6 separate regions of the Homo sapiens genome follow, and regions 2, 3, 4, 5 and 6 are each linked to region 1. The links come from fine-mapping of genetic effects on gene expression. A gene starts in region 1. Each other region holds a variant in brackets. All regions are shown on one strand. Distances are between the middles of the regions.

Region 1 (5,008 bases):
GTCAATGAGGAGGAAGAATGAGTTGGAGACAGGCCTGGAGAAGAATATTCTAGATAGAAGGAAAAGGAAGAGCAAAGACCCTTGGGTGAGAAAGAGTTTGTATTTTTGAGGAAAGCATGCTAGTGTGAATGCCAAGCAGTATTCTGTGGGAAGATCTCAGGAGGTGTCTAAGGGCATGGAGATAAGTGGTCAGATGCACGGTCTGTTTTATAGGTGGAATTAACTGCTTGCTGATGGATTGACTGGCTGTGAGGGTGAGTGGCAAGAAGGAATCGAAGACGAGTTAGGGTGGATGGCGATGCCATTTGCTGAGACAACTGGGAAAGAAAAAGATTTGGGAAAAAAAGTTGAGTTCAGCTTTGGACATGTTAAGTGTGATATGCTAGTCACTTCAGTGGAGATGACAAATGGCAAGCTGGAGAAATAAGCCTGCAACTCCAGGAGAGGACCTCGCTGTAGATTTACTATGGTGAGTCATCAGCATGCATATGATATAACAGTCATGGGGCTAGGAAGTTAGTTTCTCCTCAGGGAGTTTGAAACTGTAACTAGTTCAGAGAAGAGGGTGGAGGGCAGCCCCGAATACCCCAGCATTTACCAATAGAGCAAACAGGGACTCAGGAGCCTGGGGAGTGAGGTTAGCCAGAAACCCTCAGAGTGGAGCACTGGTGCTCTTACTGAGAGAGGAAGGTGTGTCCAGATGGAGGATGTGATTAACTGTCCTCAACATCCCTGAGAGAAGGAGTAAGACAAGGGCAGGGAAGAGAAGAGAATGCAAGATTTGGCAACATGTAGGTCATTATGATGACTATGACAAAAGCAGTTTGAGCTCAATTCTGTGTGGAGTATAGGGAAGGAGGGTTGAGGACGTGCATTTAGAAGGGTACATAGTTCTCAAGAAGTTTTGCTGAGCACATCTGTAATCCCAGCTATTTGGGACGCTGAAGTGGGAGGACTGCTTGAGCCCAGGAGTTCAAGACCAGCCTGGGCAACATATCGAGTCCCTGCTTTAAAAAAAAAAAAAAGGAAGTTTTGCTGAGAGGCTAGATGGATTATGATTTTTGTTTATTTTTCCTGTTTATCCATATATTATTTTTCAACAATGAGTATTGATTACTTATATAATAATTTTAAGGCTGTACACATTGCAGACAGCACCCCACTGTTTGAAAAACTCCTCCTCAGTAGAACATGGCAGACCTTCATCTTCCTTCCCTGAACCTTTTCCAACCTTAGGCTTGCCATTCTCCACCAGTGCTAATGTCATGTCTCTTGAAATCTGTATTGAAGTCAGTATTTCATTCTTGCCAGTTTCCACTGTGTGTTTAAATTTGGAGTCTGGTGTCTAGCATTAGCTGGGGTTGGAGCTTCCACTCCTCTCAGCATTGGTAAGCCTCCTCACCCACCCCATCCCATGTCCAAGATCACCCAGTTACACACTTACCATCTACCCAGTTCATTCACATCATCAGTCCCAGAGCTGCAGAGATGCTCTTTTTCTACCTCCTACTTCTCTGGCTCTTAGAGAGGCAGCATGGGATAATGGGGCAAGCGAATAGGGCCTTAAAGTAGAGGGACAAGGGTTCTCTTCCCTATCTGCCACTTATTAGCTATGTGACCTCGTGTAAGTCTCTTTTCTTTTTGAGACAGGGTCTCCCTCTGTCACCTAGGCTGGAGTACAGTGGTATGATCATAGCTCACTGCAGCCTCGAACTCCTGGGCTCAAGCTATCCTTCCACCTTAGCCTTCTGAGCAGCAGGGACTACAGGCACATGCCACCATGTCCGGCTGATTTATTTATTTTTATTTGGGAAGATGGGGGTCTCACTATGTCGCCCAGGCTGGTCATGAACTCCTGGTCTCAAGCAACCCTCCAACCTTGGACTCCCAAAGTGCTGGGATTACAGGTGTGAGCCCTGGCCTTGCCTCAATTTCCTCATCTGTAAAACGGGGTTAGTGAAACTCACATCCTATCAGTGGTTTTGAGGATGGGCCGACTCTTGTATTGCCTGCTCTAGTACAATCAGCAGCTAAGGCGGCTCACTTTCCGGCCGTGCTACAATAGGTAAGAACTAGGATGCTTTAGACGTGTGACTGGGCAGTGGGAGCCCCTCACATGATCCCGAGATGCCAGACAGTGTCTCTCCGCACAGGGCGTGTGCTGGTCCAGAGGCCCGTTTTTCCAGTCGCCCCACACCCCGGGTCCGCGATCACGCTCCCCCCACCCATAGCCGAGCCTGACGCGGCGGTGGCTCATGCGCCTTTCCGTCCCAGCCTTTAGCCACGGACCACACGTCCCATCTCAGGCGCCCCGCCCCTCCCCCGCCCCCCGCCCCCGGCGCGCCTCCCCAGGCTGCCGGCTCCGGTGTCTGAGCGGCCGCGCCCGCGAGCCGTGAGCGATGATTGGCTGCGCCACGGCGGCGGGCGGTCCGTGGGCGCACACACCCTCCCCGCGCAGCCAATGGGCGTGCGCACGTCACTGATCCGGAGGCCCGCGGGCCGGCAGCCCCTCAATAAGCCACATTGTTGCATGAAACTCCGGCGCAGGAGTCCCGGGCTGCCGCTGGCAACATCGTGTCACCCAGCTAAGAAAATCCGCGGGCCCGAGCCACGCGCCTGTGAATCGGAGAGGTCCCACTGCCCGAGTGGAGCCGGGCTGAGATTCTTCTCAAGTTGAGCCTCAGTGATCCTGTGGCCGAAGTTAGCGCCTTGACGTGGGACAACCGGACACGTCGCCAGGAGAGAACTGAGGCGCCTTCTAGCAGTTGTGACGCCAAAATCACGTCTCCGGAGACCCGCGCCCTCCGCCAGCCGGGCGCACCCTCGCCGGTAGCCTTCTTTGTGCGCCGTCCGGACTCCCAGCTCCCGGCCCGGCAGCCGAGCCCCAGCACAAAGCAGTCGGACCGCGCCGCCCGCCTCCCCTCTCGCGTCTCCGCCTCGGTTTCCCAACTCTGCGCCGTCGGGCCGCGGCAGGATGATTGCCTCGCATCTGCTTGCCTACTTCTTCACGGAGCTCAACCATGACCAAGTGCAGAAGGTAAGTCAGCGCGGGCGGGGCGGCAGGCTGGGCTCTGGCAAAGTGGTCTGGCCTCCATCAGTCTCTTCCTCGACCCTGCGGGGACCCGCTTCCTCCCTACTCCGGGCCTGGGAGCGGAAAAAGTTTGGGCAGCCGGGACACTCCTGGGCGCCAGGAGCCACGTCCGCTAAGCACAGCCGGCGAGTGCGCGCGGGCGGGGAGCCGAGGTCGCGCTCCGCCGGGCGCCCTCCCTCCCTGAGCTCCGGCACGCGCTCACGCTCTCTCCCCCAGTCCCTTTTTCCCTGTTACTGGAGGGGCGGGTCACCCCGCAGGTAGTCAGGGATTGCTGCGCCCACGTGGGAGGGAGCCCCCTTCTGCAGCGCGAGTTCCGGCGAGAGCACGTGGAGAGAATCGTGGCTGCGGGAGGCTGCTCCGCTGCCGCGTGGGGCCGCCGGGGGCCGTCCGCGCTCGCGGACCGCGTGTAGGAGACGAGCGGTTCCCTTCTCCTTCCCCGCGGCCCTGCGGGGGTGGGCTCGAGGAGAAGCTGACCCGGGAAGGAGTAGGAAAGGGGCAGAGGAACTCCGCCCGCCGCGCCCCCTCCCCGGAACTGTGGCGCCCGGAACTGAGGCTCGGCGAGGGGCGTCCCCCATTAACCCCCGCCCCTCCAAATCAGCCTCGGGACCGCCCAGCCTCGTGTCCTCAGGATCTGCCTCTGAGTAAGGGGAGGACTTTGGTTGTTACTTTCTGGTTTGCCCTAAAAGTTACTCGGAGAGGCCAACGCGCCGCGTTCCTGGATTACTTGAGATTCTTGAGATTTATGTCCTTCCGAAAACGAGCTTTTTTTTCCTTAAGCCTCGACCTGTCTGTTCCCACCTGGCTCCGCAGCTCCCTATGGCTGAGCGCTCACCGCGGCCGGGTCATTTACATAAGAAAGAGCCTCAGGCCAAGCCGGGAAGCTCTCATTCCCCGCCTCGGGGTATGGGGGTGGGGATGGGGCCGGGGCCGGGGACGGGCAGGGCCAGGGGCGCGCTCAGAATTGAGTTTCTGAAATGCCCGGGATTAGGGGATTGGCTCCTGGCCCGGGCCTGGGCTACGATTTGAGGTAGGGGACAAGTTGGGAGGGGATTAGCTGGAGGGAGGTTGTTTTAAGAGCTGTGAGGCAACGGAGCGTTGCTCAGTTACATACTTGGAATTTCAATATCTGATGGGAACACATTTTTGGGAAAATGTCTTGCCATTACCGTTCTGTGCGACAACCTGCTCATATTCCCATTCTGGCGGTCCCGAGGGCATAGGAGGCATATTAATGTAGTGATGGCGCGTGAACCTCCAAGAAAAGCAGAAGTTACCCAGCCTCAAGTCTGGAGGAGCGAGCAGAGGCGGTTGATTTACTTGGGTTTTACTGTTTGTAAATGGCTGTTATTCTCTAATTCCTGGGATGTGGCTCTGCACCTTGATTCAGTTTACTTAAAAACGTGCCTTTGATTTGAGCTGGCAGGATCTTGGTAACTTCTCAACTTCTAAGAACTCTTGGGGAAGGCTATCATCTCTTGGCAAGTCCTAAAATACACAGTGGAGCGTCATTAATCTCAGGGAGTTCTCCTTTGGGTATTACCCCAGGACATTTGAATCCTTGCATAAATTTACTCTTCCTCAATCCAGAGGAGGGCACCAGGGTTGGAACCCCGTTGGAGTTATACCACTCTCAATCTTGGAATGGGGGTCATCTCTCTTCCCCCAGAGTGGAACGGGAATTAACCAGGGTATCTGGAAATGAGTTGTAATCTCTGTCTTGTGGTTTATTAACCATAGCACCCTGAGCCTCTTTGGACAGCCCGTTTCTCTTTGTGAAATGCAATAATAACAGTAGGCTTGTCCACTTTATGGAGTTGCGATTATTAAGCGCTGCAGTGTGCAACTGTCATTCCTGTAGGTTTTCTCTACCCTTGCAGCCACCTGTCAGTTTGAGAAGTGTCCCTGAAGACCCTTGGG
Region 2 (4,000 bases), 550 kb before region 1:
CCTCAGGTGATCCACCTGCTTCAGCCTCCCAAAGTGCTGGGATTACAGGCATGAGCCACTGTGCCTGGACTATACAGGATCTTAATGAGGGTGATTTCAGGGTTGAAACAGATAGTTCAGCTTTCTCCATCCTGTATGGAGTGAGAGCATCCCTGCCTATGTGCATAGAACCATTCAGGGCTTTTGAAAACATACTGATCTGGTTTGACCCAACAACTGACCCACTTCTCCTGCCCTTCCCGGTCACTGCAGGAACATTCTCAGAGCATGTGTCTCATAAGAATCTTCTGGCAGGTTCGTGTTTATGGTCTGCTCTGAGTTGAGACCAGAAGCAGCTTGGATTTGGAATTTGCTTTCACAGCTCTTGGGAGGCGCTAAGCTCTGGTTATTTCTGAGTAACCCCAAAGGGCCCTCCACACTTGGGTGGGTTCCAACCCAGGTCATTCTCCTTCCCAGCCCCTCCACTTGCAGTCAGGCAGAGGTGGGCATGAGAGAGGATAGAATTCTGGGTAAATAGTTTGCTCACAGTCAGGTGGTCGCCCCCACCCAATCTGATCCAGCCCTCCCTTCAGGCAAGGTCATTATCAGCAAACAGCCAGCTGCATTTCCCTCATGGGAATGCTAGAGACAGAGTTAATAAAAATCTATCTTATTAACAGCCTGACCTACCAGCATTGATCACATTAGAAATGACGCTGCACACACAGTCCCCATTATGTGCATGGTGCTAGGCTCAGCAGAGCTCAAAAAGCCATTTAAATCCCTCCAGGAGTGACTCCTCCAAGGGCCTGAAACATCCCCCAAACTAATAACTCCCGACAAAGCACTGCCAGGGAAAATTCCTTGCGGATTTGAGATTTTCACTCTGTTAATCTCCTAACTCAATAAAGCAAACACTCCCTGCAGCAAATTAAATACTTTTATTAAAGCGTCCCCTCCCCGATTCTCTTTGACATGGGCATTGTGGACCATAACCGTCTTGGAGCCTGAGTGTCTGTGTGAGGGGCTGTCCCCTACTCCCTATCATTTTCTCCTGTTACTCTAAGAAGGCCCAGAACCCATTATGATTTACTGATTCTTAGATTCTCAAAACATCTGAGATCTCTAGCTTCCCTGAGTGGCTCCACTGGCCTGTCAACTGAAGAAACTGCTATTTTTTTGTGGGGGTGACAAGCCTCAAACAGCTCTGACCCAAGCACCTCTAACCTTGTAGTTTGCCTGGAGGAGGGCCCAGCAAAACTGTTCAGGCCCATGGTGGGCTTCTTGGCTGATGGTCAAACCCTTCTTCTGACTTCACTAGGGGCTTGCTGGTCATACCTTGGAGAGTTATCTGGAAACCAGATGGGGTTAGCTGTAGAGAGTAGAAAAGGGTGGAGCAGAAGTCGAGAAAGCTACTCTCTTCCCACATTTTCCTGTCCGCAAGCTGGCCTTCAAGCTACTCCTCTTTGGGATCTGCCTAGAATTGGGTTCGACCACTTTAACTTCTAGTCATTGCTTTCTTCTCACTGCTGGTTGGAGCCAGGTTATCCTGAGGTCCTGATGGCCTTTCTTCCAGGACCTCCTCAGATGCCATCTTCAGAAAGCCTGCTTTGCAGGGAAACCTACCACTTTGCAGATGGTAACTGCCAGACCCCTTTATGTTTTAGGAGAAGCCCCCTTCTAGAAACATCCTCATCTACAGTTTCTTGGTTCCTTCACTGGGTCTGGAGTGCAGAGGGCTTTGTGAATCCACACTCTGAGAGAATAGAGACAGTGTGGTTTGCCTTTGGTGATAGTCAGGTCTCTGGGGGCCATAAGGCCTTCTTGGCAAGGGCTCCACGGGTGTGTGTGATAGGCCCTCGTGGAGGGTCTGGTCCTGGCAACCATGGCTAGGGCTTCTGGATGCAGACCCTGTCCAGGGTGTGGAGAAGGCACCTTCCCCTTCCTGGGCCTCTGAGAAGGCCCTGCCCAGATTTCCTCCTCTCTATTTGCTCACTCTGGGCAGGAGAGGCCCTCGTTCAGGGCGGGCAGTGGCTTCAGGCCCTGGCCCCTCAGAGGTGTTAAGACATAATAACCCAGGGTGGGTCCTGGTCATTTGAAATGTCCCCCTTCCCTGTC[A/G]ATCTTGGATAGGCATCCTGGGCTCTGCAGCTCTCCCCATGTATCTCTGACCCCAACAGAATTGCTTCCAGACCTATGTTCTTCCCTGGAAGTCAAAACAGTCACTGGAAGTTAGAGACAGAAAGAGAAAGGGCTGAGAAAATGAGGAAAGGAAGACAAAGTCCATTATCCCTCAAGTGGGAAGTCAGACAGGCCTGGACTGGAATCCATATTCAGCCACCTACATGCTCTGACCCCTGGTGAGCTACTTGCTCCCCTTCACCTCAGTTTCCTATCTATAAAATAGGGATAATGAAAATTCCACCCACTCAGGGTCACTGTGCAACTTGCAGGAGACAAGCCGTGAATCGATCAGCACCGTAAGTGTTCAAAGAACGGCATCATAGGAAGAGATTCAATGGCTTCCACACAGGGACCGGGCCCAGATGTGGAGCTGGGGATTTGTTCCTCTCTGAGGCCCGCAGGGACTTATTTACTAGTACACCCAGTGGCTTTTCTTCCAGATACATGGTACGTGGAGTGGGGAAAACCTGGGGGTGTCCAAACCTGTGCCTTCTGGCTCTGCACAGCAACTACCCAGGCTAGTGAGGGAGATGAGCGAGGGAAGAGCCCAGGCCATGGTTGGGGGCAGCTGTCAGGCTCTGGGTGTCACAGTGGCCCCCATGCAGAGACAGACCTGGGCACGGTTGAGTCTATGCACTCTCAACTTGGGCATAATTGCCCCCAAGGGGGCAAAAACTGTTTCTTCGAGGAGTGAAAATATTTTAGATATTACAATGGTTTGTGGTACTCTAGAGCTACACTCGACCTGACAAATCTTATTCCTTTTTTTTTTTTTTTTTGAGACAGAGTCTCACTCTGTTGTCCAGGTTGGAGTGTAATGGCACAATCATGGCTCACTGCAGCCTCAACTTCCCCTGGCTCAGGTGATCTCCCACCTCATCTTTTCAAGTAGCTGAGACTACAGGTGTGTGCCACCACGCCTAGCTAATTTTCTATTTTTATTTTTATTTTTGTAGAGACGAGGTCTTCCTATGTTGTCCAGGCTGGTCTTGAACTCCTGGGCTCAAGCAATCTGCCTGTCTTGGCCTCTCAAAATGTTGGCATTACAGGCATGAGCCACTGTGCCTAGCCCTTATTCCTTATTTCTTTTTTTTTTTTTTTTTTTTTTTTTGAGACGGAGTCTCGCTCTGTCGCCCAGGTCGGACTGCGGACTGCAGTGGCGCAATCTCGGCTCACTGCAAGCTCCGCTTCCCGGGTTCACGCCATTCTCCTGCCTCAGCCTCCCGAGTAGCTGGGACTACAGGCGCCCGCCACCGCGCCCGGCTAATTTTTTTTTTGTATTTTTAGTAGAGACGGGGTTTCACCTTGTTAGCCAGGATGGTCTCGATCTCCTGACCTCATGATCCACCCGCCTCGGCCTCCCAAAGTGCTGGGATTACAGGCGTGAGCCACCGCGCCCGGCCTATTCCTTATTTCTAATGAAAGAAATTAAATATTAATTTAATAAAGTTGATTTAAATCAAATTAAATTCTTCTCCTGGGGGCAGAGTGGCATCATGTAAAGAAGGTGGAGAAATATCGGCAGTCTGTCTTCCTGTCCGAAGGTCCCTCCCGCTGCCTCTTACCATAGCCTTCCTTCCCCTTGGGCTCTTGGGAGCATTGGGCACTGCTGAACAGTCCAGTTAAGTCCCAAGGCCCCTTTGTCACAGGCACTGGGGATATGAGCAGTGCCAACCATTCTTACCCTGCCCCTCCCTTGGCTCCTGCGACTTCTCCGTGCGGCTCCCCTCCAGTTTCTGCTCTCCGTATATATGGAGTGCTCTCTGCTCCACACGCTTTTCTCCATGGCTCCAACTCTGCAGCCCCAAACTCTGCCAGATAGCCCTCTCCATCTGGATTT
Region 3 (5,008 bases), 46 kb after region 1:
TTTTCACAGCCCAGCAGGGGCAAGAGTGAGGATGGCTTGATTTTTGTTGTTGTTAACAATATCCCAAGAGTCAGGCGGGCCTCGTTTACTGTTCTTGAGATTTCCACTTGTAGATTGAAGAAGTCCTGGTGTTTCAGGGACCAGATGGTGGAGAGGAGGTGTCTTTGGAGCCAAATGGAGCAGTGGAACAGTGCCAATGACTTTGTTTTAAGGGGAAACTCTTGAAGGAATGGGGCCTACTTGTTGCTATACCCCAAGGTGATGCAAGTACCCCAAGGTGATGCAAGATTTAGTTCCCTTGAGAAGGGTGCTAAGGTTATAGCACTAGCCCCTTACCAACCATCTTTAGACACAAGCTAAAGCAGTGCCAAGTCCATGGTGAAATGCAATAGACTCCTACTGCTTTAGAGAGAGAAACCAGGTGGGCATCACCGCAGGGTTCACATGTTGAGAGTGGCTGACAGCAGAGACACTGTCTGTCTCCCCTAACACAAGCAGATGTAACACAAACTCTCACACACACAACTTGGTGGTAAAGCACCAAGAACAGGGCCTTGTTTTTACATAGCACATGCATAAGAAATACTTGTGTTTCTCAACTCCGTGTGTCTCTGTGTGTGTGTGTGTGTGTGTGTGTGCGCACGCACATGCGTGTGCGTGTGTGTGTGGTGTCTGGGAGAGGAGCCTCAGGGTGGCTGTGCTATATTTTGCACCCCCTTCCTCCTCCTCCTGCCCCTGCACAGGTGGACTAAGCAATGAAGAGGGATTCTGTCCCCACTGGGTGGTGAATTTGCTGGAACTAAAGGGCTTCCTTGCCACCCCCCGACACACACACTGGCCACAGTGGGTCAGACACAGGCCCACATGCTATCTTTCTGTTTCCCAGGGAGAAGGATGGCATCCGGAAGGCCCGTGAGGTCCTGATGCGGTTGGGCCTGGACCCGACTCAGGAGGACTGCGTGGCCACTCACCGGATCTGCCAGATCGTGTCCACACGCTCCGCCAGCCTGTGCGCAGCCACCCTGGCCGCCGTGCTGCAGCGCATCAAGGAGAACAAAGGCGAGGAGCGGCTGCGCTCTACTATTGGGGTCGACGGTTCCGTCTACAAGAAACACCCCCAGTGAGTCAGTGTGCAGGGCCTGGAGATGCGGAGTTCCTGGAGTACCTGGGGCTGAGTGACTCCTCATGCCAGCTCCATTTTGCATTTCAGGGGTGGTGTGGAGGGACCATAGAGCTGAGGGTCTTGGTGGAATGAAAGTTCCCACCTGGGCAAGGGGGAATGGGAGGAAGTCATATCTGGTGTGGGTGGAGGTGATTTCTGAAGGCTACTGATGACTCGGGCTCTCCGCAGAGCTCCTCTGGCTGCTGGACACTCTCTTTGCCACCCTCTTGTATGCGTTATTGTTCCTGTCTTTACTCTTAGAATTCTTGGTGATTCCTGCAGGTGCTATGTCCTCTGCCAGGGACCACCCCAGCCCAGTGAGGGTTACCAGCTTCTCTGGCTGACCTTGGTATTAAATTGATCCTGCCCTGTCCACATTTTGATCCCTCAGGTCATAGGTACCAGAATATTCACATGTCAGCTGAGACCTGGAAGATGTCTCTTTATTGTGCCTACTTATTTCCCCATCATTTTCACCTAATAAGAATGCCAGGTCAATGTGCCTTTGTTTTCTTAACTTGTCGGTGCAGGAGGCCTCAGCCCTGAGATTCCCTCTTCCTACCCAGTGTTGCAAAAACTCGAGTGTGCACGTGAATCACATGGGGATCTTGCTAAGAGGCAGATTCTGATCAGAAGGTCTGGGGTGAGTCTGAGATCCCGCATCTCTAACAGCCCCCAGTAGGCTGCAGCCTACTCCTGCACTTGGAGTAGGAAGGCCCTGGAGACCATGGCTCCAAGTGGCCACTACCCAGAGAGTTCCTGGCTGAACACGTTGTCTTTAGCTGTGCAGACACCTTTGGGATCATTGGCAGAAACTGGCAAAAGAGAGGCTAAAGTCCAGAAGAGCATCTCTAGCTTTTAATTTTGGGTCTTTCCCAGACAGCAGCTAGTGAAATGAGTGATAGAACAAGACAGATAGGTGGCATCAGAACCACCTAATACCACAGGGCTGCTCCAGCAAAGAGGCTGATGGTACCATGTTGGGCAAGGGAGCAGTGGCCAGGGGGCCTTCTTCAGTGAGGAAGAGGAGGTCTTGTGTGGCTGCATGTAGGGGACAGTGGCTTATTAAAAGGTCTTTTCCTTTCATTGGCGGGGGTGAACCAATCCTGGGTGGTCATAGTTGATATGGTTCTTGTAGTGGTTCCTAACTTGGGACAGTGGAGAGAGGATGTTTAGGGCAGCACCCACTCCTGCAGGTGCCTTTTGGCATTTGGATTAAGGCGGTGGGCAACTGTCTAACTATTTGCACCATTGACCCTAACCATGGACACCTGTC[T/G]CTTACCCGCCCTGGGGAACTGCAGTTTTGCCAAGCGTCTACATAAGACCGTGCGGCGGCTGGTGCCCGGCTGCGATGTCCGCTTCCTCCGCTCCGAGGATGGCAGTGGCAAAGGTGCAGCCATGGTGACAGCAGTGGCTTACCGGCTGGCCGATCAACACCGTGCCCGCCAGAAGACATTAGAGCATCTGCAGCTGAGCCATGACCAGCTGCTGGAGGTCAAGAGGAGGATGAAGGTAGAAATGGAGCGAGGTCTGAGCAAGGAGACTCATGCCAGTGCCCCCGTCAAGATGCTGCCCACCTACGTGTGTGCTACCCCGGACGGCACAGGTACACGGCAGGGTTGCCACCTGGCTCACATGGTGGGCCTTTGTCCTGGTGTTGATACCCTGGGAGGGATCCCTTAGCATTAGCATTGGACATTTGAACCAGAACACGTTTCTTCAGCCGTATTACTAGGGAGTTCTAGTCTTTGATAAACTCAAACAAGGTGCTCCTCTGCAAACAGTAGTAATGGTCAACACTTATTGAATGCTTACTGTGTGTCAAAGCACTTTATGTGTATGAGCTCATTTAATCTTTGTTAACTGTTAAAAAATATTAGCAGTTAATTTTATGTATTCACCTATGTTTGACAGAAAACTGAGGCGCAGAGAAGTTAAGACACCTGCCTAAATTCACACAACTAGAAAATGTCGGAGCTGGGATTCAAACCCAGGAATTCAGGTTCTAGAATCTGCTCTTGCAATCACCACATTGGTCTGAGTCAGGGTTGGCAAACTATGGCCCATGGGCTGAATCTGGCCCACCACCTGTTTTTGTACATAAGGTTTTATTACACAGCCATGCCCATGCGTCTGCACGTTGCTTATGGTTGTTTTGCACTGTCTTGGCAAAGTTGAGTGGTGGCAGCAAAGACTGCATGACCCACAGGGCCTAAAACGTTTGCTGTCTGGGCCTTTACAGAAAAAGATTTCTGACCCCTGCTGTAAGTCTTGTAACCTCAGAAATGGTGGTCTTATTCCAATTCAGAGAAGACAGTCGATGAGCAGGCCAGTGTAGCACAGTTGTTACAGGTTCCAGAGACAGACTGGGATTTGGTCCCTGCTCTACCCTGTCCTGGTCGTATGGCCCCGGGCAAGTGATTTAACTATCAGCCAGATCCCAATCATCCTTAAGAGAGGAATGCAGTGTCTCCCTCACAGGGCTGCCTAAGGGTTGAACGAGGACTGTGTGTGAAGCATGTGGCACACTGTAATTGTCCAACAAGGGAGGGTTTTCTCAGTTTAAAAGATTTCCCTTCAGCTTCCTTCAGGGAGCTGGACTCTTCTGTTCCTTCTGTATTCTAGAATGTAATATAAAGTGGCATTTGATGGAACAGGAATGGTGTATTTGGATCGTTTTAAGTGTACTGTCTCCACATTCCCCATGTTCTGCCCCAACTTATCACTTCCCTGGGCTTATTTTCCAGAGAAAGGGGACTTCTTGGCCTTGGACCTTGGAGGAACAAATTTCCGGGTCCTGCTGGTCCGTGTTCGGAATGGGAAGTGGGGTGGAGTGGAGATGCACAACAAGATCTACGCCATCCCGCAGGAGGTCATGCACGGCACCGGGGACGAGGTGAGCAGGGCGGCGCCTTCAGGAGGGGGCCCCTGGTGGACGTCACCTCTTGCCTTCGAGGACAGTGCTTTCTCTGCTCATCTGTGACCCTGGGGAGGGCTAGCTGGACCCAGGGCTGCAGCCTGGTCTTGACTCAGGTTTGTGCCTGAGCCTGCATTTCTTCTGGGTGGAAAGAAACATTGATGTTGTGCGCAGGCCCTACTGGGGGCAGCCTGCCCTGCCCAGGGCCCCTCCCTCAGTGTCCTAACTTCTCCCTGCAGCTCTTTGACCACATTGTCCAGTGCATCGCGGACTTCCTCGAGTACATGGGCATGAAGGGCGTGTCCCTGCCTCTGGGTTTTACCTTCTCCTTCCCCTGCCAGCAGAACAGCCTGGACGAGGTAACAGCACCTTCCTGGAGGGCTCTCCTGTGGGCTTTATTGACTCTAAACAAAACCAGCCAGGTATGGAGCAGGGGAGAAAGTTGAGCTAAGACTAAGGAAAGGAGGGCGTGAGTTACCAGTAGTGGGGAGGGGCTCCTTGATGGGAATGAGTAAGTTGAGGCTGGTGGAGGTTAAGTAGGTTAGCTCAGCTGTGACAGCCTTTGGGACAACGATGATGATGCTACTCAATGTTAACAACTGCCGGGTGTGGTGACTCATACCTGTAATCTCAGCACTTTGGGAGGCTGAGGCAGGAGGATTACTTGAGGCCAGGATTTCAAGACTAGCCTAGGCAACATAGGAAGACCCCATCTCTATTGAACTTATATATATATATATAGCATTTTTAAGCACTTACTGTGTGCCAGGTACTATGTTAGGTTTCTTACCTGCATTATCTCGTTTAACCCTCACAGCAACCATATAAGAGATATGTTTGAATACCCATTCTACAGAAAGGAAGATAAGCCCCACAGAGGTGCTGGGTGTCTTGCTCCAGGTCATAATAGCTTGGGACTGGCCAAGCCA
Region 4 (5,008 bases), 28 kb after region 1:
GTTTTCACTTATAAGTGGGAGCTAAACAGTGTGTCCACATGGACATAGAAAGTGGAATGATAGACCATGGAGACTTGGAAGGGTGAGGGTAGGAGGGTGGGGGGCATGAGGGTAGGAGGGTGGGGGGTGGTGTGGATGATGAGAAATTACTTAACGGATGTAGTGGGTGTTGGATACACTAAAAGCCCTCACTTCACCATTGTGCAGTATATCCATGTAACAAAATTATGTTTGCACCTCATAAATTTAAACAACTAAAAAAAACCTCCATCAAGATACAGAACATTACCATCACCCCAGAAAGTTACCTTGAGCCCCTTCCCAGTCAATCCCTGTACCTGATCCCCCCAGAGGCAATCACATTCTACTATTTTCCACATATGTGAGTTTTGCCTGTTCCAGAACTTCACATATAAATCGACTCACACAGTATTTGTTTTTTATGCAAGTCTTTTTTTATTTGTCATAATGTGGGATTTATCTGTGTTGTGTCTATCAGTGTCTCGTTCCTTTTGGCTGCTGATTCCATGGTATGATTAGAATCTGATATGAATATTGATGGACACCCGGGCAGTTTCCAGTTTTTGGCTATTTGAGTAAAGCTGCTATGAACATTATTGCACAAGCCCTTTTGTGGACACGTTTTTAGTTCCTTGTATAAACAACTAGGAGTGGAATTACTGGGTCATTCATAGAATTTGGTATATGTTTAATTTTTAGAAACTGCCAGACATTTCCCCCAAATTGTTGAACCATTTATACTCCCACTAATAATGTATGAGAGCTCTGCCTGCTCCATATCCTCAATAGCATTTGTTGTCTGTATGTCCTTGTTTCTTTTTTTCAGTGGAGAGTTAATTAAAGAAAGCATTCATTTGCGTTTGCTAGGAAACACACCATCTTGACCTCTCTGTAGGCAGCCCTAATCTGTGCCACAACCCTGCGTGTGACTGTGGTACCAGCCCTAACGCAGTTCTGTCAGGGGCCCCACCACACACATAGGGGCCACACATAGGGGCCTGGCTTTCAGAGGACAGTTCCATTTTAAAAGGGAATGCAGGGGTCGGGCACGGTGGCTTACGCCTGTAATCCTAACACTTTGGGAGGCCAAGGTGGGTGGATCACTTGAGGTCAGGACCAGCCTGGCCAACATGTTGAAACCCCATCTCTACTAAAAATATAAAAAATTAGCCGGTTGTGGTGGCATGGACCTGTAATCCCAGCTACTGGGGGGCTGAGACACGAGAATCGCTTGAATCTGGGAGGCAGAGGTTGCAGTGAGCTGAGATCATGCTGCTGCACTCCAGCCTGGGCGACAGAGTGAGACTCCGAAAAAAAAAAAAAGGGAATGCAGGAAGAATTGATAGCATTTAATGAGCACCCATGGTGTCTGTACTAGGCCATTTACATAAATCTGTTTTACTCTCCACAAAAACTTTACAAGAGAGTCATTCTCACTTTAAAAATGAGGCAACCAAGGCTAAAAAAGGATTGATGGCTGCCAAGGTCACCTGTGGGCAGATGGTGACAGTTGGGATGTAAGCATAGATAGTCCTGACTCCACGGCCATAAGATTCACAGTTTACATTGGCTTGTACTGCTGAACCAAAGTTTCTAGGGAAAATCAGATGATTATCTTTTTAAATGGATCCTAAATACGAGTTGGCTTTGTATCATTCCAATAAGAAGCTCAAGTACAACCCAACTGAAAATGTGCCAGCCGCATGTTCTAACTTAGAAATGAAGTAACTGTGGTGCCTTTATCACCCTTGTCTTGGCAAGATCGTTTGGTTATAACTATGCCTTATGAGACAGAGTGAGGGTAAGGCAGTGTCAGATCGATCATTTGACTCTTCTTCACCTCGGAATTGTGAATTATGTTCACAGGTAAGTATACCTCCATCCTCTAGCCAGACTTAAACCCTCTAGAGAGCAGGGAACCATGATGCTGATGGTGACGGTGATGATGATGATGATAAAAATTGTAGACATCGTTAGTGCCAGGTACTGTGCTGAACGCTGTGTTTGAGCTATCTCATCATTTCTTACAGTCATCCAGTGGTAGGTACGCTGAACTTCACTTTACAGAAAAAGGCAATAGATTTGGAGCAATTAGGCAACTTGCCCAAAGTCACAGTGAGCAAGTGGCAGCATTGGGATTGGAACTTGGCCAGCCAAATTGCTAATGCCTGGGCTTTTAAGCACACCACCAGTGGCACATTGGTGCTGTGCTGCTAGCACAATGTGTGGATTCTTCTCTTACTAACCTAGGCCTAGCTGTTCAGCTCATTCAACAGTCCTCTCCGAGGCTTGGTCCTCTGTGCAGCAGCAGTGTGCTAAGCTGCCTCGTGCCCTTTAAAGAGTGAAAGTTGTGCTGGGGAGATAAGGCCCATGTAGACAAAACAATTAGAGATATCGGGCCATATAATGCAAGCACATGATGTGATAAAGGGAGACCGGGCTGGTGATACGTTGCA[T/C]GGAAGCTGGTTAAACCTGAAGGAAGCCCTTATCTTGGTTGCTCTGCATTATATTAACAACTGTACAGCGGAGACATACATCCAGAGCTAGCACACAGCAAGTTAATTGGGGTACTTACGTAGTCCAGGCGATATAAATTGAAGATTGTACTGATAGATAGCCTCAGTACAGCAGATGGCACTTACATTGTCAGGCGTTGTGCCAAACGCCTTACACTTCCTTGCACTGAATCTTGACAAGGTGCGTGTGTGTATGTGTGCGTGTATATGTGTGTGTTTTCCTGTGTTCTTGTTCTGGGTTGTGGAGGGAGGTGCTGACTAGAAGGAGGTTATCGTTACCCTTTTAAAACAGATGATGAAATCTGAGTGTCAGATTTCTAATAAATTGCCCAAAGCCACATGGCTAATGCATGTTAGAGTGGGATTTGAACCCAGGTCTGCCTGCCTAAAAAGCTGAACATGCTCAGAGCTTACACAATATTGAAACATAATCATGTTTTAACCCTTTGAAGAGTGGTTTCACATCTGTGGGGCTAATTACACCTCTCTGTGACTGGCACGTATTTTGAGCTTAAGAAACACTTCCTGGGTAAAAAGAGCACCAGAGTGGTGCATTCCAAGAGGTGTCCTAGGAGCTTTAGGGTGCCAGTCATGTGTTTTACGTGTTCCACACCCCTCCCTTCAGTTGGAGCAGCTCTGTTTTTCTCTATTTTACGTTGTGGCATTTGGCCCACCAATTTTATTTGGAAATAAGCATTCTGTTGCTTAAAATGGTTTGAAAACAAATGATGTAGAAGATCAGATCACTCCATTCCTAGTCTGTACCAGACACCAGCGTTAACTGTGATTCAGTGCCTTTAATGACACGGAGTATTGAATACTTCTGTATGGCTGAGCTCTTGAATGGTGGCCGGCATTGCATTGTAATGGAGTAATTGGAATCCTGGGGTTTAAAAAGAGGCTGCCAGGTGTGGTAGTGATCATGGCGATTCCGGGTACATGGAAAATACGTGCCTTGAGACCTGTGTCTTGCTACATTACCTGCTTAGGACTTGGAGATGTATCTTTTCGGTCCTCGTTTCATTTGGAGTATATGCCATACATTCTCAGAGCAGTCCACTGTTGTGTGCTAGCAGGTGCTTGAAAACTAAAGGAAAAAAACAAGATCCCCTCAACCCAGAGTCACCCCATAGAGGATGATTGGAATGTTCAGTGCAGTTACCTGGGGCCACTGGAAATGATATTGTAGGGCAGAAAGGGCAGGTCCCTTTAGGGGCATTAAGTTATAAATATAGGGCTGGTTCAGGAACTGAATGTGAAAGTATGCGTTTGTGACTTTGACCCACCTCCAAGTTTACGGCTGCATGCCTCAGGCATTGAGTGACAAGGAAGAGCCAGAGGCTCTAAGGTTGGATCAAATACAGTCCAGTGTTCTGATTTGCCTGAGCCTCTCCCAGTTTTGGCATTGAAAGTCCCATGTCATAGGAAACCCCTCCATCCTGGGCAAACTGGGATGGTTGGCCACCCTACATGGCCCTGGAGCTCATGCCCTCACTGCTGCTCAGCTCAACTGTGGCAGCAGCCCTTGAGCTGCTTCCTTGTGCTATCCCAGCCCTCCACAGTGCCACTAGAGCCACTAGAGCCCTTTTGGAAACAGATCTGACCTTCTTAAGAACGAAAGAAAGTCCTTGGCAATGGTATTTGCTGTGCGTTTATAGCCATGTCACGTGAGCCCTATGTTGTAGCTACTCTGGACATGCCATTTTTTGGCACCCACAAATTAATGCCAACTTATAGTTATACCAAACCTCTGTCCTGCCTTACTGGACACCAGAGCATGCCACAAACCTCCATGGCCTTGACAGGGAGAAAGGGAACAAGTACCTTGATAGGATCTATTAACGGAGGAATAATTTACTGTGTTTCTTCTTTGTTGTTGTTGTCATTTGTTTGTTTTTTTTTTGAGACAGAGTCTGGCTCTATTGCCCAGGCTGGGGTACAGTGGCGAGATCTCAGTTCACTGCAACCTCCACTTCCTGGGTTCTAGTGATTCTCTTGCCTCAGCCTCCCAAGTAACTGGGATTACAGGGCTACGCCACCATGCCCGGCAAATTTTTGTATTATTAGTAGAGACAGGGTTTCACCATGTTGACCAGGCTGGTCTCAAACTCCAGACCTCAAGTAATCTGCCCGCCTTGGCCTCCCAAAGTGCTGGGAATACAAGCATGAGCCACCACACCCAGCCTGTGTGTTTCTATATGTTCACATACAACATAGTCCATGTTTCACGTAAGCATCACAACCGCTGGGAGATGTCAGCATTATGAATCCTGTTCTACAGGTGAGGTGACATGCTCAGAGAGCCCTGTGATGTGCCCACACCACACAGGTAGTGAAGCTGCTGAGCTGGAATTCAAAATGAGGCCTGCCTACCTGTCTAAGGTCCAGTGCCTAACCACTGCTCTGGCATGGGCACGTAACCATGCGTGGGCGTTACGAGAGGGCCCGTCTCAGGATTGCCGAGTCACAGT
Region 5 (5,008 bases), 22 kb before region 1:
TTAGATAAAGTCCTTAAAATTTAATAACATAAGGCCGGGCGCAGTGGCTCACGCCTGTAATCCCAGCACTTTGGGAGGCCGAGGTGGGTAGATCATGAGGTCGGGAGATCAAGACCATCCTGGCTAACACGGTGAAACCCTGTCTCTACTAAAAAAAATACAAAAAATTAGCCGGGCGTGGTGGAGGGCGCCTGTAGTCCCAGCTACTTGGGAGGCTGAAGCAGGAGAATGGCATGAACCTGGTGGGGGCGGAGTTTGCAGTGAGCCGAGATCACGCCACTGCACTCCAGCCTGAGCGACAGAGCGAGATTCCGTCTCAAAAAAAAAAAAAATTAATAACATAAAATTAACTATCCTAGTTGAGTAGCTGAAAAAATTCACATTTTTATTAAGAAGTATTTATTAAGCACATAGAATATGTGATGTGTTGAGAGCACAAAGTTGGATAAAACCTAGTCCTTTCCCCCAAGAAGCTCCTCATCTTTTAGAAGAAGGTGGTCAAAGAAGCAGACAATAATAATACAAGATGATAAGAGCAATGGTGGAAAGGCTCCTGGAGGTGAGTGGGGTGTTATCTTTTTTTTGGGGGGAGCTACAAAATTTGATATAAGTCTATGAAATGAACCATAAGATCAAGGAGCTTATGTCTGAATCCAGACGCAGAATGAACCAACCTCATGACTAAAGTTGTCTAGGATGACACAGAACTTGGTTTAGACAAAAAGGTGACACTGAACTGCATCTAAAGAATAAGTAGAAATGCTCATGAAGGGGGAAGAGGACAGTGCATTCCAGGTTGAGAATGGGACGATGGGGTAGCACACAGCATGAGTCGAATCAGAGAGAGCATGGTGCATCAGGAATTTGTGTTACTCAAGTGGGAAAAGTGGGGAGAGCCACAGGAAAGATTCTTGAGATCCATGAAGCAACCTATATTTACTGGGAGTCTGCTATTGCCAGGTACTGAGCATGTGTGTGGGTGTTGGGGAGGGGGGATGGAGTATGAAGAAGAGTGTGGTGTTTCTGCCTTCAAGGAGTTAACAGATAGGCTGGACACACACACACACACACACACACACACACACACACACACACAGAGCATTCTGCATAGGCTGGAGTGATCCGAGATGGTTTTGTCCATTGTAGTTGTATATGTCTTGTGTCTGGGGTGGAAGATGGGAGTAGACCAGGGTGAAGGGGAGGGACAATAGAGAAAGGGTGCAGCCATATGTAAGCAAAGGTTCAAAGAAGGCTCAGAGGAGCCCAGTTTCCACTACCCTGGGAAGAAATCAAATTTGCTGGATAGAAGAGTTTGCATCAGGAAGGAGGCTAGGGCAGGGTGGAACTGGGAGAGTGATAAACACCAGCTGAAGTAACTTGGACTTCATCCCGTGGGCAGTAAGGCTTGATCAAAACAGGAGTGTGGCAAAATTTTAGGTGTGTAAGATGGTGATGTGGGTGTAGGAAGAGCAGCTGAAGTGTAGGGATTTTGAGGGAGGGAGCAAGATCAGGGATGGGGCAATATTATAAAGAGCTTTGAACAATAAGCTAAAGGCTTTGAAGTTTATCCTTCAGGTTACTAGTGTTTTTCCAAAAAGTTTTAAAGCAGTGGCACCTGCCCCCCTGTTTTTTTTTCAAAATAATCTTAGCAGAAGTTCAAAATATCAAACAGAAACCAGCAGCCATCAAGTTTGCTTGGTTCAAAAACTGCTGAAAGCAATGGGGATTCAAGGAAGTTGTAAACTCTGATGGCAGTGTAGGATCTGATTGACAGGAGAGAAGCTGAAGGCTAGAGGCAGGTTAGAAAGAGATGATGAAGGTGTGGATGGTGGAGAAGAAGGGAGCGAGATGGATTTGAAGGGTTTAGGAGGGAGAAGCAACAGGGAGGAGAGGGGAAGAGCCCAATCCCAGCCAGGAAAGAGAAAGCAGAGCCCTTGATGGTGGTTGTGGGGTGAGGTTCTTGGCTGCCATCAGGGAGGAGAACTTGAAAACATCTGGTCCAGTTGTGTGGCCTCTGCTACGGATGGACAGTACTGCCTGTCCCCTAAACTTTGTTCAGTGCTGAGACTTTTTGGAGGAACTTTTGGAAGAAGATTTGAATTTTGAGTCTTACAAAAAGTACAATACTGTGCATGTGTCCATGCAGTCTGAGAATCAGAAGTAAAACAACTCTTCTATCTGGGCTGTCAGAAAAGTTTTGTTTGAAAGTTCCAACACAGTGCCTTTTCTTTTTTAATTTTTATTTTAAGTTCAGGGGTACATGTGCAGGATGTGCAGGCTTTTTACATAGGTAAATGTGTGTTAAGGGAGTTTGTTGTACAGATTATGTCATCGGCCAGGTATTGAGCCTAGTATCCATTAGCTATTTTTCCTGATCCTCTCCTTTCTCCCACCCTCTGCCCTCCAGTAGGCCCCAGTGTGCGTTGTTCCCCCCTGTGTGTCCATGTGTCTATGTGACACAGTTCTTGGTATTGCTAACAAAAATAAGCTTGAGTCCTGGGCTAAAATGACCTATACAGATCCCTGACTGTCGAGAATTGTGAAGGATTTGAGATTTTGCTGTACTTGCAAGCTAACAAGCCTGACTCACAGATGCCAACAGAAGACAGAAGACT[C/A]CTGGGTCAGAGGCAAAGAACAGGTTAGTACTTAAGTAATAGCAGCAGCCTAGTATCCCTATTTTTGCATTGGTTCCTCAAACCTCAATTTCCACAGGGTGACAAAAGACCCAGGTAATTCTTGCACTTGTTGTGGGTTACATTATAAGAGAGGAATTCCAGGCTTAGTGAACTCAAATCTTTTGTGATGGGCCAGGTGCGGTGGCTCACATCTGGAATCCCAGCACTTTGGGAGGCTGAGGTGGGAGAATTGCTTGAGCCCAGAAGTTGGAGGCAGCCTGGGCAACATGATGAAACCCCATCTCTACAAAAAATACAAAAATAGTCAGGGGTGGTAGCATGCACCTATGGTCCCAGCTACCTGGGTGGCTAAGGTAGGAGGACGGCTTGAGCCGGGGAGGTCGAGGTTGCAGTCAGCTGAGATTGCACCACTGCACTCCAGCCTGGGTGACAGAGGGAGACCCTGTCTCAGAAAAACAAAATGTTTTGTGACAGACAATAAGCCTACCTGAACTTTGCCCTGAAAAAAGATACTATCTTTGTTAATACTGGGCGTAAACAAACCTGACCCTGCCCTGGAGGGAGACACTATACCTTCCAGGGCTGTTAGCTGCACAGACATCCTTGAAAAGATAGTCTGAAATAGAGGCAGGGAGTGCTCCGACTCTAAGATATGCACAAATGCCAGAGACCTGTGAAGAATTGTCTCCTAACATGACAAGGCTCTGATAATGCTGAGCTGAAGAGAAGACACATTTCTTTCACTCCATATCTTTTTCCTCCGTGGAACCCATCATACTAGATGACTTTTCCAGTTGACCTAAAAGGTCAAGTCTTCTCTCACACTGGAATTCTTTGAAGTGTCTCAGATATCTGACCACTAGGTATCTGAAGTTCTACCCTGAAGGGAAGTTCTACTTGTCTATGCATGGCTAGTTTAATGATTTTTCACTGACCATGCCTTTAAGTTACTTTGATTCTTCTTACCTCAAAGCTCTCAGCTTCTTTAGTAGCTTGAAATTTTGTAAAACTGAACCAATCCTATTTACTTGGACCAAATTGCTAAACTCAAAATTAAGAGGTCTATGAGGAACGTTCAGAAACTCTCCTAAATAATTTTCTCAAGTTTGAAAGAAATAAAATGCATATAGAGCTTTGCAGAAAGCAGTTGTAAAATAGAGCAGCCAACACATCATGGTGAAAGATTTAATGAGGCAATTGAAGAAAGTACTTCCATATCTTGCGGGTTCTTCTAAGCTACCAGTCTTGTTACTTTATAATCTCACCACACTGAAGAGTCACACTCTGGAACCTACAGATATGATGAGTTTTGTCAAAACAGCTCTGCAGATGGGACGAGGAACTGTAGTTCCTTTGAGCCAGATCTCTAAAGGGGATCCCCTTACCCGCTTCTGAGTCTAGAGGTCTCCAGCAGAGGCTGCGTCTTATTGCAGTGGACCCGCCTTGTATATCAAGTGAAACTAACTTTGCTTCTGCTGCAATAACTGATTGAACCAGGGATCATTACCCAAACCAAAGGCGACTGGGTATAGATTGGACATCATGGAGCTCAACCCATTGTGAGGTGGCTTGGAGAAAAATTTAGCTCTTAGTACAGGTGATCCACATCGGATGGGACAGAAAAACCCAACCAAATCTTCTCTATAAGGCATATAAATGTCAGATCCACAGAGGGATGTTGGTATACCCTTAGTAAACAAAGCTGTCGGTGGTTCAGTTCTCCTTGAGTCCTGGTTATCAAACCCAGCATACACTGGGACTCAAACAAACAGAAGAGTTGAGAAGAATAAACAGATCCTGCATGCTCTCACATTCCCTTGTATGCTCATCTCTATTTCCAAGCCATCCTTGAAATAGAAAAACATCTTTATGTCCTAAAACAATTTAAGGACCTTTTAATCAATGTGTAAACAGACCTAGGATTAGAGTTAAAGAGGTGGAAAGTAAATCCCACATGCAGAAGATCTGAGACCCTGGAGAAGAGGCACTGTGCTCTAGCCCAGCACTCTATAAGCATCAAGTTAGGCAGACATCTGCTGGTGAGGAGAGAAAGGTAGCTTCGCTGTCGGTACTGTCAAAGACAAAGGTGAAGACTTGCTCCCAGCTGCTGCAGGAAAACATTCTATAGTGTGGTCCACAATGTATGAGAGACTAAAAAAGTTCAAGCACATTAGGAATGAAAGCTTCTTTGTCCACACCCCTTCAGTAGAGGATCTCATCCTTTCCCATGCCTCTAAATATAAGTGAACTTGACAACTCCCAAATTTTACCTGCAGCCAGATTTCTGATATGAACAGAAACTCATGTAACTGTCCACTTGTGATCTCCGCTTGAGTTATCACAGGCATTTCAGTTTAGCATGTCTGAAATGG
Region 6 (5,008 bases), 41 kb after region 1:
CCGAATGCCTGGCTAACTTCATGGATAAGCTACAAATCAAAGACAAGAAGCTCCCACTGGGTTTTACCTTCTCGTTCCCCTGCCACCAGACTAAACTAGACGAGGTAAGATGGGCTCCTCAGACACTTGTTGCTTCACTCTTGGGGCTGGGAGGGCTGAGAGGGACTTCTGAGCCACCTGCTGTGGTGGTGGTGGTAGCACTGGAGGATTGTGGAGATGAAGTTCTGCCTTTCTGGGTGACTGTGTATGTCGATGGGGGGGCTGGTGAAGAAATCTGGGGGGTTGGGAGTGCCCTTTATCACCCTCTCTCCCACACACATTGCACAGTATCCTTATCCCCTCCACAGAAACAGGAATGAGAAATCAGGAACTCCCCAGTCTAAAGTGTTATGATAAAGACCCTTGGAAGAAAGATACTTGGAGAGTTAATGATGTAAGGACACAAGTACAGTCATGTATTGCATAACAATGGGGATATGTTCTGAGAAATGCTTTATTAGGTGATTTCACTTATGTATAAACATCATAGAGTGCACTTACACAAACCTAGATGGTATAGACTACTACACACCTAGGCTGTATGGGACAGCCTGTTAACTCCTAGGCCACAAATCTGTATAGCATGTTACTGTACTGAATGCTATAGGCAATTGTAACACAGTGATATCTGTGTATCTAACTAGGCAATAGGAACTTTTCAGCTCTATTATAATCTTGTTACCACCGCAGTATACACAATCTGTCACTGACTGAAACATTGTTATGCGGCACATGACTGTGTCTTATAGTGCCAGTTGTCCTGAGTTTCTTTTTCCTAGGCTAGCCAGGAAGTAACACACAAATTCAATCATGACTTTACCCCAGTGGCAGAGGTCTCTGCTAATGACGGAGGTTTGAGGGGTGTGGTGTGAGTTTCAGTTTTAGTGGGAAATCAATATTCACTTCTTGGTCCCTTTCCAGAGTTTCCTGGTCTCATGGACCAAGGGATTCAAGTCCAGTGGAGTGGAAGGCAGAGACGTTGTGGCTCTGATCCGGAAGGCCATCCAGAGGAGAGGGGTGAGTGGGGTGGCAGGAGCTTGGGGTCTGTGGGCTTTTCTGGGTCCACCCTGAAGACTCCCTGAGTGTCCTTGACTCATCATTGTTTGCTTACGTGGAGCTTAAGGAGAGTTCTCTTTTCCCTGACACATGTACTCAATAATTTTGTATGCGATCTGCTGCTTTGGGGGTTTTTAGATTATCAAATGGATAAATAATCTTAGCCTTGGCACAAGAAAAGCTCTTTAGTTCTTAACCTGAAGAAGACTTGAATGTGATTTCCAAGTAAGAAAGTTGGAATGATGTTGACATGGGAGTGGAATGGCTCAGAGAGAGAATGAATTAAAAGTCTTATCACAGGAGGAGTTATGGGGAGGGAGGGGGGAGAGAGAGAGAAGGAGGAGGAGGAGGAGGAGGAGTGATATATAGCTGGTGTTAGGAAAGTCGCCCTCTGTGATGATGAAGGTCAGAGCCCTCCCATTTGTCTCCACAGGACTTTGATATCGACATTGTGGCTGTGGTGAATGACACAGTTGGGACCATGATGACCTGTGGTTATGATGACCACAACTGTGAGATTGGTCTCATTGTGGGTGAGTGAACACCGTGCATGAAGGGCCCGTGCTGGCCAAGGGATGGGGGTGTGGGCTGGAAAGGGAGAAGGGGCCCATGGGCTGGGTGTTCCTTTGTAGTTCATATTAGAAGATAATGGTCCAGTCACTTTGGAGAGCCGAGCAGGGACTCATGGAGTTGGGGGTGGCAGAAGATTAGACCATGTATTGTGATGCCCCCAGAGTCTGCAGTGAGAAATCCCAGCCATCCTGGCCGGGCAGTCTCGGGACAGTAGTATAAGAGGGAAGAGGGGTGGGAAGGGGCCGGAGCAGGCGTGTGCATAGCCGTCCCTTGTTTTGGCAGGCACGGGCAGCAACGCCTGCTACATGGAAGAGATGCGCCACATCGACATGGTGGAAGGCGATGAGGGGCGGATGTGTATCAATATGGAGTGGGGGGCCTTCGGGGACGATGGCTCGCTCAACGACATTCGCACTGAGTTTGACCAGGAGATTGACATGGGCTCACTGAACCCGGGAAAGCAACTGTGAGTAGGCCCTTCCTGTGCGAGTGGGCTTGGCGGGGGCCTGGAGCTGAGTCTGGGGCTGGTCGGGGCCAGGGGGTTGTTTCTTTACAGTCTTACATCCCCAAAGCTTGCCAAGGTGGCCACTGGTCATAGGAATGTCTGTGACTATAAATTGCTGAGAGGATCTAAAACAGAGAGCAAGCGGATATACCAGATTATAGCTAATAATGTGTTTCCTTCACAGGAGTCATTTTGGAAGGTTCTATTCTGAGTGTAAGTGGGTGGCCCTGCTCTTTCTTTCCACCTTCTATTTGTAAATTGTCCATGGGAACTGTGAGCCACCTAAGGAAAGTTGTGTTGAGGTGGCCAAGATTGGGGTCTCTGAAAGCTCCTTTCATAGCTCCAACTCCATCACCACCCAGAGGACAGGCTGACAGCTGGCTGCTCATTGCTGCTCCCTGGGGTCCCAGGGCCTCCTGCTGCAGCTGCAGGCAGACCCATGGCCCCTGGAGACATTGGCTGAGGAGCTTCCTTGGCCTCCTTCACTTGGACCTTGGCCCAACTATGTCCTGGGATGGATTGGAGGAGGGGCGTCTAGCATTTTGGATCCTGAATATTGTATTCTCCAGCCTGGCCTGCCTTTGTTTTTAGTTGCTTTTATCTCTTACAAAACCTTATTTCACCCTCACAAACATTTGCCAAATGTGCGTGTGAAAGATCTTGAAACAGGGATTGCTTCAAGGTCTGAAGCAGTTGCAAAATATTTTGAGCAATACAGATCATCTCTGGTCTTGTGACTGTTGTAGAAAAGCTTTTCGTGCAGATCTCTACTTGGACAGGAAAATTGAACCCTATAAATCAAGTCAGTGGTGGGTAACCCAGGAGAGTCCTTGCTTTCGTTTTTTTTTTTTTTTTTTTGAGACAGAGTCTCTCTCTGTTGCCCAGGCTGGTGTGCAATGGCGCAATCTTGGCTCACCGCAATCTCTGCCTCCCGGGTTCAAGCGAT[TCTCCTACCTCAG/T]CTTCCTGAGTAGCTGGGATTACAGGCGCCTGCCACCACGCCCAGCTAATTTTTGTATTTTTATTAGAGACAGGGTTTCACCATGCTGGCCAGACTGGTCTCGAACTCCCGACCTCAGGCGGTCCGCCCTCCTCGGCCTCCCAAAGTGCTGGGATTACAGGCGTGAGCCACCGCGCCCGGCCTGAGAGTCCTTGCTTTGTCAAAGCATGGTTTATTTATCTAAGTCACAAGCTTGTTTCACATGTTGAAATGAGTCCTTTACTTGAAATTTCTGAGGATCATACTGGTTGTGTCTGCCATGGCTGATGAGAGGTTTATGAGCTGAAAAGTCACTCAGTGCCTGCCTCCATGAATGAGGCACACCCAAGTCATTCCGAGGAACTAAAGGCCCTTTCAAATGTCAAAAGACAAATTTGCCAGCCAGACCATGACAGCACACCCCCGGCTTATCCTTTGACACCCACCAAATTGTCATCCATGGTAGCCCTGAAGTCACTACAGACAATTTTTGTCCCCTCTAATATATTTCCAAGTAAGTATCTTCCAAATGTTGACTGGAACAAAGTGTTTTTAAAAACTAGAATAAAAACTTAGCAACACGGAGTTCCTTACTGTTGAAGCCAGGCTCCCATCCACGCTGGTTTCCTTCTCCTGAAGCTCTGCCTGTGTGGGTGCACTAACATTTAAAATGCGCGCTGTCATCTTCACAATTTTGCCAGCTCTCAGTTAGCCCTGATGCTGCTGTACTCGGCCTTGGGTCTTGAGCAGGCTGCTTCCTGGAGGCCTGGGTTTCCTCTCGGAAAGGTAACCTTGGAATCCCTTCCACATCTCAGTCCTGGGCCTCCTCCTCGCTGGGGCTCATCCTAGTTAGTGGCAGCAGGCCCATGTGCCTCCTCTAAGACACAGGTTCTTTCTCAAACACCCAGAAATGGGCCTTTTGTCAAAAAGAATTATCACCAGGGCTTGGTTTCCTCTCAGTTCTAGTCAGAAAGACCAATTATGAAAGAAAACAGTGCCACCTAGTGTTAAAATTAAATCACCGGACCGCACTGCTGGTTTGGGGGCCGTCCCCTGCCTTTCTAAAACATCTTGTCACCTGCCTGCTTAGAAGCCTGTTTCACTCCCAGACCCCTGAGACCTGTCATTTAGAGCTCGGAGCCCAGTGCAGATTCCTCTATCCCAACCTGCCTTTATAATGTTGCCCCATCATCCCCTGCCCCAGGTGGTTTTCACACCATTTTCTCTGGAGCCCATGAACGGCTTGCAGGGGTGGACAGTATGAGCTGATGAGTTTCTAGGCCTGTGCTACATATCTAATCAGATCGCCTTTTTTCTCTTGTAAATAAATATTGGGCTATGTAAGATATTAATTTTAAAAATGATTTCCTGGCTAGAGAAGAATTTTAAAGATTACCACCCTACGCATAACTTTACCTAAAATACAGGCTGTTCCAGAATGTTCCATACTCCCTGTGTGTTTCATTTGGCTGCTTAAGTTTCATTTATTCTTCTCCATAGGTCAAGGCCCATCAGCCTGCAGGGACAACCCAAGCCAGCCCCTCTGAGCCGTCACCTCTCCACGTATCTTACTCCTGGGCCGTGCTGCACACATTAACCCTTAGTTGTGAAGTTGCACGTGTGCGCATCTTGCTTCAACAGGGAAGCTATGAGTACATGGGCAGTGGGGACTTTATGTTTTTGGTTTGTGTCTTCCGGCAGGTTTGAGAAGATGATCAGTGGGATGTACATGGGGGAGCTGGTGAGGCTTATCCTGGTGAAGATGGCCAAGGAGGAGCTGCTCTTTGGGGGGAAGCTCAGCCCAGAGCTTCTCAACACCGGTCGCTTTGAGACCAAAGACATCTCAGACATTGAAGGGT

Which allele goes with the higher level. Positions count from the first base shown, and alleles are read on the strand shown. Sizes are in standard deviations (SD) of each study's normalised expression. Not every link is listed here.
As copies of C replace A in region 5, the expression in spleen of the gene that starts at base 2,521 in region 1 goes up (moderate effect, 0.43 SD a copy in GTEx).

The links. PIP is the estimated chance that this variant, and not a neighbour inherited with it, causes the effect.
Region 2: its variant is fine-mapped to the expression of HK2 in whole blood (INTERVAL, PIP 0.98).
Region 3: its variant is fine-mapped to the expression of HK2 in whole blood (TOPMed, PIP above 0.99). The same link has a PIP of 0.9 or more in blood mononuclear cells.
Region 4: its variant is fine-mapped to the expression of HK2 in stomach (GTEx, PIP 0.91).
Region 5: its variant is fine-mapped to the expression of HK2 in spleen (GTEx, PIP 0.93).
Region 6: its variant is fine-mapped to the expression of HK2 in whole blood (INTERVAL, PIP above 0.99).

The regions. Positions count from the first base shown.
Region 1 is chr2:74,831,607-74,836,614 of GRCh38, forward strand. HK2 (hexokinase 2) reads left to right here and starts at 2,521. Exons shown (of 18, transcript NM_000189.5): 1 at 2,521-3,037. The coding sequence starts at 2,975. HK2-DT (HK2 divergent transcript) reads right to left here and starts at 2,381. Exons shown (of 1, transcript NR_185897.1): 1 at 1,049-2,381. RefSeq lists silencers at 2,013-2,082, 2,263-2,492, 3,413-3,662 and enhancers at 3,239-4,115, 3,893-3,962.
Region 2 is chr2:74,280,917-74,284,916 of GRCh38, forward strand. The region is part of intron 8 of SLC4A5 (solute carrier family 4 member 5); the gene reads right to left. Among named protein-coding and RNA genes, the nearest start is that of SLC4A5, 60 kb to the right of the region's middle. The variant A/G (reference allele first, on the strand shown) is at 2,098.
Region 3 is chr2:74,877,802-74,882,809 of GRCh38, forward strand. It overlaps HK2 (hexokinase 2), which reads left to right. Exons shown (of 18, transcript NM_000189.5): 9 at 887-1,120; 10 at 2,464-2,768; 11 at 3,910-4,058; 12 at 4,319-4,438. Among named protein-coding and RNA genes, the nearest start is that of LINC01291, 29 kb to the right of the region's middle. The variant T/G (reference allele first, on the strand shown) is at 2,439.
Region 4 is chr2:74,860,085-74,865,092 of GRCh38, forward strand. The region is part of intron 2 of HK2 (hexokinase 2); the gene reads left to right. Among named protein-coding and RNA genes, the nearest start is that of HK2, 28 kb to the left of the region's middle. The variant T/C (reference allele first, on the strand shown) is at 2,478.
Region 5 is chr2:74,809,872-74,814,879 of GRCh38, forward strand. No RefSeq gene overlaps it. Among named protein-coding and RNA genes, the nearest start is that of HK2-DT, 22 kb to the right of the region's middle. The variant C/A (reference allele first, on the strand shown) is at 2,616.
Region 6 is chr2:74,872,316-74,877,323 of GRCh38, forward strand. HK2 (hexokinase 2) reads left to right here. Exons shown (of 18, transcript NM_000189.5): 4 at 1-104; 5 at 961-1,056; 6 at 1,529-1,628; 7 at 1,951-2,134; 8 at 4,851-5,006. Among named protein-coding and RNA genes, the nearest start is that of LINC01291, 34 kb to the right of the region's middle. The variant TCTCCTACCTCAG/T (reference allele first, on the strand shown) is at 3,120.